2 separate regions of the Homo sapiens genome follow, and region 2 is linked to region 1. The links come from fine-mapping of genetic effects on gene expression. Tissue or cell type: lymphoblastoid cells. Region 1 holds a variant in brackets; the other region holds the start of a gene. All regions are shown on one strand. Distances are between the middles of the regions.

Region 1 (7,181 bases):
ATATGCATGCACACATATGTAAAATATAACTGTGACACTCCTTGAGGAGGAATAAGTAAGCATAAACTAGGGGAACTGACCTGGTTGGGGAGCTCAGGGAAGGGTTCCCTGAAGAAATGATAACCCAGCTGAGATGTAAAAGATGAGTAGACTTTAATTAGGGGAAGAGGGGAAAGAGCGCTCCCTGTGGAAGAAATAGGATGTCCAAAGGCCCTGTGGCCTAAGGAAGCAGGTGTGTGTGGCAGAGTGCATTTTCTAAAGATGGCTGCATCACTTTGTGATACTCCATAGCTCTTCCTGCAACATGAGGCCACACTCACCCATGGAGAGATGAAGGTCTGTGTCCCCTTGAATCCAGTGGGCCTACTGCAGATGTGATGCCATGTGACTTCTGAGGCTAAATCTAAAAATGTTCTATCTCGTCTTCTTGGGACCCAGGACCATGCTGTGAGGCACCCATGGAGCCACGTGGAAAAGTCCCAGCTGGCAAGGGCCAATTGCCCTCCAGACACAAGAGTGAAAGGGCCTTCAGATGACTCCAGACCCAGCCTCTGAGCCACTGCAGCAGATGCCAAGTGGAGTGAGCGCTGCCTGGATTTCAGATCTGTGAGCAAAATAAATATCATATCATCCTTTCAAGCCACTCAGTACTGACGTGGTTTGCTCTGGTGGCTGTAGATAACAGTATGTCTGGGGAACTCTGAGAAGGCCAGTGGAAAAGGGCACAAGTACCTCTGGGACCTGGCAATGGAAAGGGAGCAAGAGCTGGATCCAGAACTTGCTACAAGCCCAGTGACTCTAGAAAAGGCAATCTCTCCAGGCAAACAAAGATGTGGGGCCTATGCTTGGTTACTGGAGTGAGGACTGGATTTCAGCCCTCATTCATCTCTCAGCCAAATGTTCTTGTGCAGGGCACACCTACACAATCATACTTAGAGGCCCTGCTAGGCCACACAAAGTCTCAGAGGCTGGGTTAGGGATTTGGGTCTTTATTCTAGGAGCAATGTGGGAGCAGGTAATCGGGCCAGTGAAGTGATTCTTACCACTTTAGTTCAGAGTCTCCCAAAAGACTCAGAAAGCTGCTGTCCATAGATTTTAGGGTCCATTTCCAAGGGAGAGAATGGGGCCAAAAAAGTCAGGCTTCTGATTTTTTTTTTTTTTTTTTTTTGAGACGGAGTCTCACTCTGTCACCCAGGCTGGAGTGCAGTGGCACGATCTCAGCTCACTGCAAGCTCCACCTCCTGGGTTCACGCCATTCTCCTGCCTCAGCCTCCCGAGTAGCTGGGACTACAGGCGCGTGCCACCATGCCCGGCTAATTTTTTTAGTATTTTTAGTAGAGACGGGGTTTCACTGTGTTAGCCAGGATAGTCTCGATATCCTGATCTTGTGATCCACCTGCCTCAGCCTCCCAAAGTGCTGGGATGACATATATATATATATATATATACGTATATATACATATATATATACACATATATATACATATATACATATATACACACATATATATACATATATACATATATACATATATATACATATGTACATATATACATATATACATATATATACATATATACATATATATACATATATACATATATATACATATACATATATATACATATACATATATATACATATATACATATATATACATATACATATATACATATATATACATATATATATACACATATATATATACACATACATATATACATATATATATATATATATATATATTTTTTTTTTTTTTTTGAGACAGAGTCTTGCTGTGTCGCCCAGGCTGGAATACAGTGGTGTGGTCTTGGCTCACTGCAGCCTCTGCCTCCTGGGCTCAAGATATCCTCCCACCTCAGCCGGCTGAGTAGCTGGGACTACAGGCATGCACCATCATGCCTGGCTAATTTTTCTTTTTTCTTTTTTGGTGATGGAGTCTCACTCTGTTTCCCAGACTGGAGTGCAGTGCTGCGATCTCAGCTCACTGCAACCTCCACCTCCTGGGTTCGAGTGATTCTCCTGCCTCAGTTTCCCAAGTACCTGGGATTACAGGTGCACACCACCATGGCTGGCTAATTTTTGTATTTTTAGTAGAGACAGGGTTTCACTATGTTGGCCAGGGTGGTCTCGAACTCCTGACCTCAAGTGATCCACCCTCCTCAGCCTCCCAAAATGCTGGGGTTACAGGAAAGAGCCACCATGATCAGTCTTTTCTTTTTCTTTTTTTTTTTTTTTTTTTGTATTTTTGTAGAGACAGGGTTTTGCCATGTTGCCCAGGCTTGTCTGAAACTTCTGGGCTCAAGCAATCTGCTTGCCTCAGCCTTAATTTTTTTTTTTTCTTTGAGATGGAGTCTTGCTCTGTCACCCAGACTGGAGTGCAGTGGTGCAATCTCGGCTCACTGCAACCTCTGCCTCCCGGGTTCAAGATATTCTCCTGTCTCAGCCTCCTGAGTAGCTGGGATTACAGGTGCGTGCCACCATGCCTGGCTAATTTTAGTATTTTTAGTAGAGACAGGGTTTTGCTATGTTGGCCAGGCTGGTCTGGAACTCCTGACCTCAGGTGATCCACCCGCCTCAGCCTCCCAAAGTGCTAGGATTATAGGCGTGAGCCACCGCGCCCGGCCCCTAATTTTTTAAAATTATTTTTCATTTTTCAAAGATAGGGTCTTGCTTTGCTATCCAGGCTGGAGTGCAGTGGCACAATCATAGGTTACTGCAGCCTCAAACTCCTGGGCTCGAGTGATCCTCTTCCCTCAGCCTCCTGACTAGCTAGGACTACAGGTGTGTGCCACCACCCTCCAGCTAATTTAAAAAAATTTTTTTAGAGATGGGGGTCTTACCATATTGCCCAGGCTGGTCTGGAACTCCTGGCCTCAGGTGATTCTCAAGTGATCTGCCTCAGCCTCCCAAAGTGCTGGCACTATAGGCATGAGCCACTGTACCTGGCCAGGCTTGCTCATTCTTCAACATTTCTCTTGTCTCAAGGTGGAGATAATTTCTCCTACTTATAGGCTCAACTCTACCTACATACTAATCTCAGTTCTGTCCTAGCCCCCAGAATAGCTAAAACATGGCTAAAAGTAAAGATCAGCCTAGCATTTGGTCCCTTTACCTTTTTTTTTAAGTTTTATTTTCAATTGATACACACACACACACACACACACACACACATATGAAGTACAATGTGATGTTTTGATACACATATACATTGTGGAATGAGCAAATCAGGCTAATTAGCATATCTATCAACTCAAATATTTATCATTTCTTTGTGGTGAGAACATTTAAAATCCTCTCTGTTAGCTATTTTGAAATACACCATGCATTTTTTTTTTTTTTTTTTTTT[G/TG]AGATGGAGTCTCACTCTGTCAACCAGGCTGGAGTGCAGTGGCACAATCTCGGCTGACTCTAGCCTCCACCTCCTGGGTTCAAGCGATTCTCCTGCCTCAGCGCTCCTGAGTAGATGGGACTACAGGCATGCACCACCATGCCTGGCTAATTTTTTTTGTAGTTGTAGTAGAGATGGGGTTTCACCATGTTGGCCGGGCTGGTCTCGAACTCCTCACCTCAAGTGATCTGCTGTCTCGGTCTCCCAAAGTGCTAGGATTACAGGTGTGAGCCATCTTGCCTGGCCTACAGTGCATTATTAGTAGCTATAGTCACGATCCAGTATATAGAACACCAGATCTTATCCCTCCTGCTTAACTGAAGCTTTGTACCTGTTGACCAGCATCTTCTCTTTCTCCATTCACCCCCGCCGCAGCCTCTGGTAACCACCATTCTGCTCTCTATTTCTGTGAGTTTGACTTTTTTAGATTCCGCATATAATTGAGATCCATAAGTGGTATTTGTCATTCTGTGCCTGGCTTATTTCATTTAACATAGTGTCCTGTAGGTTCATCCATGTTTCTACAAATGACAGAATTTCCAGGTTTTTTTTAAAGCTGAATAGTATTTCACTGAGTTTATATACCACATTTGATTAACATGGCAGGGGAGATATCTCTTCAGCATAATGATTTTAATTCCTTTGGGTATATACCCCAAAGTGGGATTGCTGGGTCAAATGGTAGTTCAGTTTTTTAGTGTTTTTTGTTTTTGTTTTTTGGTTTGTTTTTGTTTTTGTTTTGAGACAGATTCTTGCTCTGTTGCCCAGGTCAGAGTGCAGTGGCACGATCTCAGCTTACTGCAACTTCCTCCTCCCTAGTTCAAGCAGTTCTCCTGCCTTGGCCTCCCAAGAAGCTGAGGTTACAGGCGTGCGCCAGCACGCCTGGCTATTTTTTTTGAATTTTCAGTAGAGTTGGGGTTTGGCCATGTTGGCCAGGCTGGTCTCAAACTCCTGACCTAAAGTGATCTGCCTGCCTCGGCCTCCCAAAGTGCTGGAATTACAGGCATGAGCTACCGTGCCCGGCAGTGGCTTTTTAGTTTTTTTGAGTTATCTCCGTACTATTTCCAAAATGGCTGTACCTTTGCCTTCTCAAGCCCTCATTCTGGTGGCTTGGCTTTGACTTAGTGTCCCAGATACTTTGGATTTAGATTTCTATTCTTATCTTTGCACCTTCTTTCCCTTATTCTCTATTCTCTATCACCGATCTCCAAGACAATGACTCCTAATGCCCACCAAGACCATGTCCAAGCTCAGTCCCCCTACACATGGTGAAGCCATGTCCGGGATGAACGGTGTGATGAGTAAGCAATGGTGGGGATTGTGGGAGGCACTGTGGGCTGTCTACTCAATGGCAATTCTCTCCTATCTTCACGGTAATAGAATCCTGACTTTGTTCCCCTTCCCCAAGTGATCACAACCTTTTAGGAAGGTTGGACTCCTCCCTGGCCCTAGGGTTGAAATCTGGATGGATCTAAGCCAGTCATGATGGTCTCATTCTTCTTGACAAATGAATGGTTTGGATGTGGACCCATGTGTTGCAAGGGGAGGTTTGCTGGGGAGCCTTTTAGAACATTTTCATTGCTCATGAAAAGGAACACCAAAGCCCCACCCTGGCACTCACATAGATTTCTTAAGGGATGTTACTATGTTCATGTGGCTCTCAGAACTGCAGCGGCCAGCTTAGGCCTAGGTGGGAATCTCACCTAAGAGGATGAGTAAACAGACTGAGGATAACAAAATGAAAAGAGGGAAATAACCTGATTCCTTGAAGATATGATTGGGCAGCTAAATTACCAACCATGGAATCAGTCTAACTCCAATCTTATTTTTCTTATTTCTTTATTTTTTTTCAGACAGGGTCTTGCTCTGTTGCTCCAGCTGGAGTGCAGTGGCATGATCATAGCTCACTGCAGCCTCGATTTCCTGGGCTCAAGCTATCCTCCCACCCCACCCTCCCAAAGCACTGGGATTACAGGTGTGTGAGCCACAGTCCAGCCTTAACTCCCACCTTCTTGTCATATGAGATAATATATCATCTTAGAGTGCAGTGGCACGATCTTGGCTCACTGCAACCTCTGCCTCCCAGGTTTGAGCAATTCTCCTGCCTCACCCTCCCGGGTAGCTGGGATTACAGGCGCGCGTCACCATGCACAGCTTATTTTGTATTTTTAGTAGAGATGGGGTTTCCCCATGTTGGCCAGGCTGGTCTCAAACTCCTGACCTCAGGTGATCCGCCCCCTTTGACCTCCCAAAGTGCTGGGGTTACAGGTGTGAGCCACCACGCCTGGCCTGTTTAAGCCATCTTATGAATATTTTCTATTACTTATGATTAAGACTTCCTAACTGATACAGGACCTTCTGGCGTGAAATCCCAGACCATAAACTTCATTTCTTCTCCTTGCGGGTATAAGATGAGGAAAAGATGCTAACATTGTGAGCACCTACTGCATGCCAGACATTGTGCTAAACGCTGTCTACTCAATCGTCACAAGACAGTGTAGCAATTTTAAAACATGGCTGCAAATTCTTTAATGCTTTTTCCATCAAGAGGTAGGGCTTATGTCCCTTCTGCTTGGATCCCGTTGGTCCTGTGTATATATCCACCAACAGAGTCCAGTGAGAGGCTCGCTCATAAAAAGCTGTGCCTAGCTGGGCACAGTGGCTCACGCCTGTAAGCCCCACACTTTGGGAGGCTGAGGCAGGTGGATCACCTGAGGTTGGGAGTTCGAGACCAGCCTGGTCAACATGGTGAAACTCCGTCTCTATTAAAAAATACAAAAATTAGCCGGGCGTGGTGGTAAGCATCTGTAATTCCAACTACTCAGGAGGCTGAGGCAGAAGAATCACTTGAACCTGGGAGGTGGAGGTTGCAGTGAGCCGAGATCATGCCATTACACTCCAGCCTGGGTGACACAACAAGACTCTGTCTCAAAACAAACAAACAAACAAAAACAAAACAAAACAAAAAAAACAAAACTGTGCTGCTTTCTCCTTGCTTTCTGGAGTCACATAGGAAGTTCAGCTACCTTAATACCACCATGCCACGTAGTCATGGTGTAGGTGTGCTGATTGACAGTACCAGCTGAGCCCAGCTTGCCAGTCATCCCTACTAAGGCTCCAGACTTGTGAGTGATGCCCTCTTGAACCCTCCAGAGCAGCCTCTCAGCCTGCTGAATACCACTAAGTGACATCCGTTGATACTACATGGAACGGAAGAATCTCCCAGGCGAGCCCTGCCTAGAATTGTGAGATATAGAAATAATGGCTTTGAGCCCAGGAGTTTGAGACCAGCCTGGGCAACAAAGCAATACCCCATCTCAAAAACAAAACAAAACAAAACAAAATAAAATAAAACCATGGCTGTTGTTTTAAGTCATTAAATTTTGAGATACATAGTTACACAGCAATACATAACCAGAATTAGTAGGTTTTATTATCTCTACTTTGCAGCTAGGAAAGACTAAACCAAAGCTCAGAGAGGCCAGTAAGCAGAGGCAAAATTCAATCTCAGTTTGCCTAACTCCAAAGCCTAGACTTTTCTCACTACACTGTAATGCTTGGGCCCTTCCTTGACACCCAAGCACCATCTCTGGCCTGCTCCCTGCTTTGACCTCAGGCTCACAGTCTGGCTTCATTCTCTAGACCTGTGGTCTCTGCATTGACACTTTTTTCTATACTATTGGACTTTCCAACAGACACCATCCACTTAGTCTTTCTCCACCTGCCTAATCAGTGGCCTGGCCATTGCCACCTGCCCTACAGGTACTCCTGTGTTCTGCTCTGTTATCTCCT
Region 2 (7,181 bases), 26 kb before region 1:
TATAATGCCCACAAAAGGGACCGATCATTGGGAGCCTTCCTTTTCTCACCGGGAAATCATTTATTTGCCTTTAGCAATTTCCCTGTTTGCTAATTACAAGACAACACAACTGCTCAAGTTTGAGAAGGGATGGCAAGATTGCCAGTATCAGACAGCGAGTTTAAAAAGAGTCAAGAAAGCTAGCAAGCCCGCCATCAAAGCTCAATATTCAGATGGTTAAGTGGATTTTAAAATAATACCAGGGAGGTTTCCATCGGAAGGGGGAGGGGAGGAGAGGCAGAAATTCTCAGGGATTCTTTGGAATGTTGCTTGGTCCGGTTTATTGGTAGGCGAACACTGCGATTCTGAGCCGAACGGTCCCGTTTAAGATGCCCCACAAGCTCCCAAGAAAAATACAAAGTAAGCGAACTGTGCTTCCCCTACAGCTGCAAGCCCAGAGCGCGGCCCCTGCAGCCTGGTGGAACTGGCCCTGGAGAAGGGGGTTGAGCCGAACCGCTCTCCCAGCTTCCCAAGCATGTCTGGGCGCCGGGCAGGGGGGGAATAATTATTTCTCTTCCCTAGCCATAAAAAAAATGACCGGTCTAGCATGCCCTTGCCATTTTGCCAGGGCCCAAAAAAGCAAGTCAAACCTGATAGTTAATATTTTAATGCTTAAAAACACTTGTAGATCTGATCGACTCCCGTCCGGCAAGCCCTCGGCCATTAGCACCGAATCCATGGCTGCTGAACAGTGGGTGCATTATTTCAAATTGCTATCTAGAGTTACCGAAAAAGAAAAAACAAAAGTCGTGTGTGTAAATAAGGGGTAGGGGACCAAACTGGAGAAGGTGTAAAATGACAATACCGGGAAGCCGGGCACAAATGCGTCTTGCGTCCAGGGATTCGTAATCCAGGCTTCTTAGAAGAGGGAGGGAGGGATGAGGAGGAGGGGGTTCAGGGTGAGGGCAGGGGGCACAGGCCGGTGGGGGAGGGGATGAGCCGTATTAACAAATGTCAGGGTTGGGCGCGGGACCGACCCTGCAGGAAGCGCCCCCCGAGCCCGGCACCCCGCGCTGCCCTGGGGCCCCCAAAGTTGGGTGGCCGGCGATCGGCGGCCCACTCCCTTGAAGGAGAGGCGCCCCAGCCTCCCTCGGCCCCCGCACCTCCTTGAGCCCGCACACCCTGGTCTCTGGCCCCCCTGGGGCCCACGACGGGCCTACACGGAAGCTGGCGAGCGCCGACCCCGCCATACATCCCAAGGCGCCAAAATTCCCTAGAAATACACAAGTCCGCTTGGAGGAGTCCATTCCGGCTGCACACAAACCAAGAATCCGGGCCGCAGGGGCCTCCCCGCCCCACTCAGCCCTGCTGCCCTGCGCGGCCCGGGAGAGCCCGCAGCCAGTGCGCCGGGCAGCGGAGCCCGCCACGGCGCCCAGGGCGCTCGCGGCCCTGCGGGTTGCCAAAGAAAAGGACGCCTCAGAGCCCCCAAGTTTGCGGTGGGACCAATCTGGGAAGTGTGACCTTCCAGGGGAAGGGGGAAGGAGGGCCGAGAGCCAGCAATCTCCACTAGAAAGCTAAATACATAGTCGCCCAAAAGAGAAAGCCAAGGAGCCTCTCCAGGGCCCCGGGCTCTGCGCGCTAGCCAGTTCTCAAGTCCAATGCCTGGAGGAAACCCACTCTCTACCCCGCGCATCGGGCGCAGCACAGTCAGTCACTCGTGGCCCGCAGCGGCAGCCAAGGGGTTAACCGGGGAAAGCCCAAGACGCCACAGAAGAGGGAAGGAAGAGAAGGAGAGAGAGGGAGAGAGAGCAAAGGAAGAGCCACAGAGTCATCTTCCCAGGGTGAAGAAACAAACACCACCACCAAAGGGGGAGGGGGAACCAGAACGCAAAGGAAAGTTCTTCGGATTCCCCCCCCTCCCCACCAACAAAGCCCTGCTTGGACAGAGAGGTCTCCCCAACATCACGAGGCAGCAAACTGAAAGCAAGAACGTGGCGAAGTGCAAACAAATCCAGTCCACAAAAGGCAGAAAAGTTTGGAGAGTTTCGGGCCTCCTGGGCCACGAGCGGGGGAGGGGAGGGAGGGAGGGGAGGAGGCGGGGAGGGGGAGGCGGGGAGGGGGCAGGGCAGGGGCCGCATGCGGGGCCCGGCGGGCGGCGCGGGCGGGCGGGCAGCGGGCGGGGGCCGGGCGCGGAGGCACTTACGGTTCGGGCGGTGGGCGAGAGCGATCCGTTGGGGAGGTAGGGGCTCGTCAGGTCGGGGATCATGATGAAGGGGTAGCCGGGATACGGTGGCCCCTTAAAGAGCCCTCCATCTTGCCTCTTGGCCGCTAACATGGCGGGGCGGCGAGGGGACAGCGGCGGCCGCGCGGAGCGGGAGAGAGTGAGGAGAAACTTTTTAGAAAGTGCCCCGAGGGGCCGGGCGCCCCGACCGGGCCGGCGCAGGGCCAGGCCGAGCCGGGCGCGGGGCCGGGGCGCGCGGGGCGGCCGGCCCGGGGGGCGGCTCCGGGCGGCTGCGGGGCGCGCGGGGCGTACTCACCTTCTTCCAAACTTTCCCGGGATTTGTCTCGGAAACTTTCGGAGCGAGGCGGAGGCCGTCTTTCCGCCTTCCCAGAGGGGTGGAGGTGGGGAGGGCGAGGGGCAAACGCCACGCAGAAGGGGGAGAAGGGGGAGAAAAAGAATCGGCGAGGTCGAGGGGGGGGTAGAAAAAAACAGGGTTACAAGTTTTTGCAATGGTGGCACCGTACGCACACGCCGCCCGCCGGGCCCCGCCGCCGCCCCCAGCCCCGATTTCTCCCCTTTCAGCAACATTTGCCAAGCCCAGGAAACAGATAAAAAACCCCACCAGCCCGAGGGGCTTTTCCTACCTCGGAATCGGAGGAGCTGTTTTGATTCGTTTCTGATTCATTGACTAGAGACGATTTGACATCAGCTAAATCCCTCTCTGCCGAGGAGTTTTCGGAGCTCTTCTCCTCCTGTTCGCCCTCGTCTTTGAAGGAAATCAGTTCGTCGTTGGCGCCTAGGTCATCCCCTCCACCGCCGTTCAGCTGCGGCATTTTTTTTTCACCCACCAGCAGCAATTTTGGAAGAAAAATGAAGGAGGAAGAAAAGCCAAAAAAAATCACCCCCAAAAAGTTTTGCCCCCCCAAAAAATATTGCAAGAAAAAGACGAGTCCAAGGTGAACTTTTTTCTGCTTGGGGGTCTTTTTCTCCTGGGGAGGGGAAAAGAGGGAGGAGGGGAGGGGAAGGGGGGGGAGATCTTCTGCACGCGTGAGTTTGGGTTTCTTTTTTCTCTCGTTCCCAAGGATCCGATCAATGTGCAAAAAAATAATAAATAAAAAAGGGGGGTAAAAAAAAAAAAAACACCAACAACAACAAGAAGTCAGATATAAAGAGCAAAGGGGGGGGGAAGCCGAAGATACAGGAGGTGCTCGTGCCGCTCGGATTTGAGTGAGTTGAAGTTAGACTGAGAGCTTTTCAGTTCAAAGGCGGCGCTGATTGACAGATAGAAAAAGGGGGATCGAAATCCGGAGGAACGGAGTAGTCTGGGAGCGGAGATTATTGACAGGGCGAGAGGAACACACTGCCTTAATGAGATGCCGGAGGGCGGGGCCGGCCCAGTGACGTGTGCATAAATAAACAGCCGGGGTGGGCGGGGCGGGGGCGGCTAACAATGATCCTTTCGGGCGCCGGGAGAGGGAGGAGGGAAAGAAGGAGGAAGAGAGGGGCGGGGAAGCCGGGGGGAGACGGAGGGAGGAGTGTGCAGGGGGAGCGGCCTGCGCGGAGTGTGTGCGAGCCCGGGATTCTGGGCGAGGGTGCAGGGACTTGCTCCGGGAGGGGGCGGTTTCAGAAAGACAATGCGGGGTGGGAGAGGAGGAGAAGGGGGTGGCGACCAAGTCAGGAATCCGAGCCGAGGAAGGCGGAAGGAAAGCCCACTTGGGGGGCGGGGATGGGGAGAGGCCCAAAACAGTGCACTTTAGAAATATTAGAAATAAGTCTTAAGGGAGGGGGAAAAGGAAGGGTAGTATTTGAGAAAGTGGTGGCTGGGGGAGGGGGTGGGGGGGTGCTTGGTGGTTAATTCAGCAGTGAAATCAGCCACCCTTAGACGGGATGCGACAAAAGTGGTCAAAAGGAAAGATCAACCCTCCACTTTCAGAGAGCTTGGGGAAGTGAAGGGGCTGGTCAAAGTTCCTGGTCATCTACAATGAAAGAAACTATTAACCCATGAGGCCTCCCTCCTCCCTTTTTTGTTTATTAGTAGTGAATCATTTCATGAAATGTTAAGTCCCACTAGGATGGATATGCCAAAACGACTTTTTATGCAAAAAACAAATGCTAAATGTCAGAAACATTAAAAGTATCCTTAAGGAAAAATATATGATTCTTTTAAATGTAGAGTGGTGTTTTGCTTTTTTTTTTTTTTTTTTAACTGACGTTGGAGGTAGTAGGAAATGAGCTAGAGTCAAAGTCCTTTTTGACTTAGGAGGTGAAAAGTTTGGGCGTTAACACCGTCAGGGAAAATAAAACTGAAAGTTCACCAACCCCTGGGATCAGTTGGGCTACAGTGTTTCTCGAAGGGGGTCTGAAATGAAATCCCCGAAAGACTGACCAAAATAATCAAGATGTAGGTGGCTCTGGCAGGAAATTGCTAACCAAACCGATGCTAGAAGACCTTCGGGAGAAGATGGGAAACCTGGGGCTTGAGGCAGGTATTTGTTGACTTTTAGGTATTAGAGGAGGAGCAGACTGATTTGCTACAAAATGGGGAATGGAATTATGTTAAAGAGGAAAGACCCAGCTCCCAAAACACAATGTTCCTGGGTGATAGAGCAAGAAAATTCATTTTTGCAAATACCCAGTAAGAAGTAGACTGGACACTACAACATGAAAAAGAGAAAAAAGAAAAAAATAAATCAGTAGGATTTAGCAAATTGCCTCTTAGGAGTAGTATTAGTCTAGAGTCCAGGATGTACTGTTGTCCCACCCTTCCCTGAAAAAGCTCACCTGCACTTCAGCTGGCCCATCAGCACCGAGGTTTCCAAAAGAAAGCAAATTTGCCATGTAATATTTAGAGAGTTTGGGGTTTCAGCAAAACTGTTTTATAGGCTAAAGTCTCAGAAAGACTACTAAAAATAATGATACCGAGATTGACAAGGCCAACGAATTCCCCTGCACTGGAAAAAAATCACAACCACATTTGCACACTAAAGAATAAGATGCAGGCAAAATAAAAATGGGTTGGGGGGGAGGCAGAGGAGAATCACTGTAACTCCCAACTTTGATATTAATCAGAATATCAGAAGTAGAGTGAGAAGGAGCCTGAAAAGAAGTAAAACAAATGTGTACATTTAATCAGACAGGATTGCATAGGATACAAAGCACAGGGCTAATTAGTCTCAGCAGGTAGGACTAACCTTCAGACTTCATAAATAAATAAGGCAGGTGCAGTGTCTAAGAGGGAGAGTGGAGACAGAAAGGGGATTATTTCAAGACACCAAGTGAAAACATGAAGAATGAAATGCTTCACTGTTAAATCCATGTACAAATGGACTTAACAGTTTCCTTTTTTAGGTCTTTTACTTGGTTGCCTTTAGATTTACACATTTAGCGAAATGACCATAGCTTTATACACTTGCTAATTGTCACCTGTATACTTGATGTGCCTAAGTCTGTCTATATGCAGCGTAGACTTTACTAAGGCTCATTTTAGGGACTTAGTTACTTAAACTGGAACACATTTATAGGAACTCAATTTTATGGCAATTTCTTTGTCCTGTGTGGTAGTTTTTTGTTTTTTATTTTTTTAATCAAACCCTGGTCTGAATTAAGTTGGATAATGAGGTCTTCTATGTTCTTTATAGTACTACCTGTATAATAAAATCTCAGGAATATACTGAATTGAAATTTTAAAGAATGTACTTACTGATTTTACTATACTGGCCTGCATTTTTATCATATGTAAATACTAAGGGCTTTGTTCCCATGATTAGTAACTTTATCCATTTTGGCATATCCTTATTTTTCTCATTCAAAGGGAACTCTTTTGAATCTCTCCTTCCTTAAATCTCTGATTTAATTAAGCAATTAAAAAGTTATTCTGTGATAGTGCATGTCCCACATTTAATTTCGTTGCCTGGTGCTGTACAAAGGCTTGAGTAGACCAGCAAGATCTCAGAGGGGCCAGATCCCTGATGCTCTGCAAGTCCCTCAGGTGATGCCTGAATTGAGGAGCGGGGGGGAATGGCAGAATTGGCACTGCAGTAGCCAGGCAGCAAGGTATTGAAAAATACCTTGAATAGCCGGGCGCAGTGGCTCATGCCTGTAATCCCAGCACTTTGGGAGGCCAAGGCGGGCGGATCACGAGGTCAGGAGATCGAGACCATCCTGGCTAACACGGTGAAACACCGTCTCTACTAAAAATACAAAAAATTAACCAGGCGTGGTGGCGGGTGCCTGTAGTCCCAGCTACTCGGAAGGCTGAGGCAGGAGAATGGCGTGAACCCGGGAGGCGGAGCTTGCAGTGAGCCGTGATGGCGCCACTGCACTCCAGCCTGGCCAACAGAGCGAGACTCCGTCTCAAAAAAAAAAAAAAAAAGAAAAGAAAAAAAAAGAAAAATACCTTGAATACTATTTGAAAAAAAAGGTAGGCTGGCCCACAATGTGAATGTGTAATTTATAGATTTGGTGTGAAATTTTAAACACAGTTGACTTGGGTCCAAGTGCTGAGGCAACTTCTCTGTGGATACTGATGACTCCTGGTTTATAGGACCAAGCGTTCTGCCCAAATGGCAGAGATTTGAAAAACACAGGAAACCAGACCAGTTCTGACTTTAGCCTGAGCCAGGGGATTTTGCCACCATGGGCTCTGCATGTTGGGAAATGGGTGGGAGGGGGGAGAAGCTGTGCCCTCATCCCTTGGAATCCAGTTAGGTCTCTGCATATTTTGGGAGGAAGGCAGGGAGAAGCTGGGCCCTCACCCCTTGGAGTCCATTCCTGGCGCCAGTCCAGGTCCTGAACTGTAAGTAGCTGTCCCTAGGCCTCTCTGACTTTGACCTCGCCCTCTTCATCCACTGCCCTTCTGCTGCTTCTCTTCTGTTTTCTCCTCTCCTTCAGCCCTCCCTTGATTAAATCCTTCTCTTTGGATACATGCTGATACCTTAAAACTTAAGTGAGTAGTGTTACCTCTTCCAGAGGTGCTTCCTTG

The links. PIP is the estimated chance that this variant, and not a neighbour inherited with it, causes the effect.
Region 2: it holds the start of TCF7L2, and the variant in region 1 is fine-mapped to the expression of TCF7L2 in lymphoblastoid cells (TwinsUK, PIP 0.95).

Annotation. Positions count from the first base shown.
Region 1 is chr10:112,920,552-112,927,732 of GRCh38, reverse strand. LINC02935 (long intergenic non-protein coding RNA 2935) reads right to left here. Exons shown (of 3, transcript XR_001747706.2): 3 at 1-604. Among named protein-coding and RNA genes, the nearest start is that of TCF7L2, 26 kb to the left of the region's middle. The variant G/TG (reference allele first, on the strand shown) is at 3,351.
Region 2 is chr10:112,946,609-112,953,789 of GRCh38, reverse strand. TCF7L2 (transcription factor 7 like 2) reads right to left here and starts at 3,543. Exons shown (of 15, transcript NM_001367943.1): 1 at 2,845-3,543; 2 at 2,517-2,583; 3 at 2,183-2,307. The coding sequence starts at 3,033. It overlaps LOC124902502 (a long non-coding RNA gene), which reads left to right and starts at 1,448. Exons shown (of 2, transcript XR_007062291.1): 1 at 1,448-2,012; 2 at 2,783-3,161.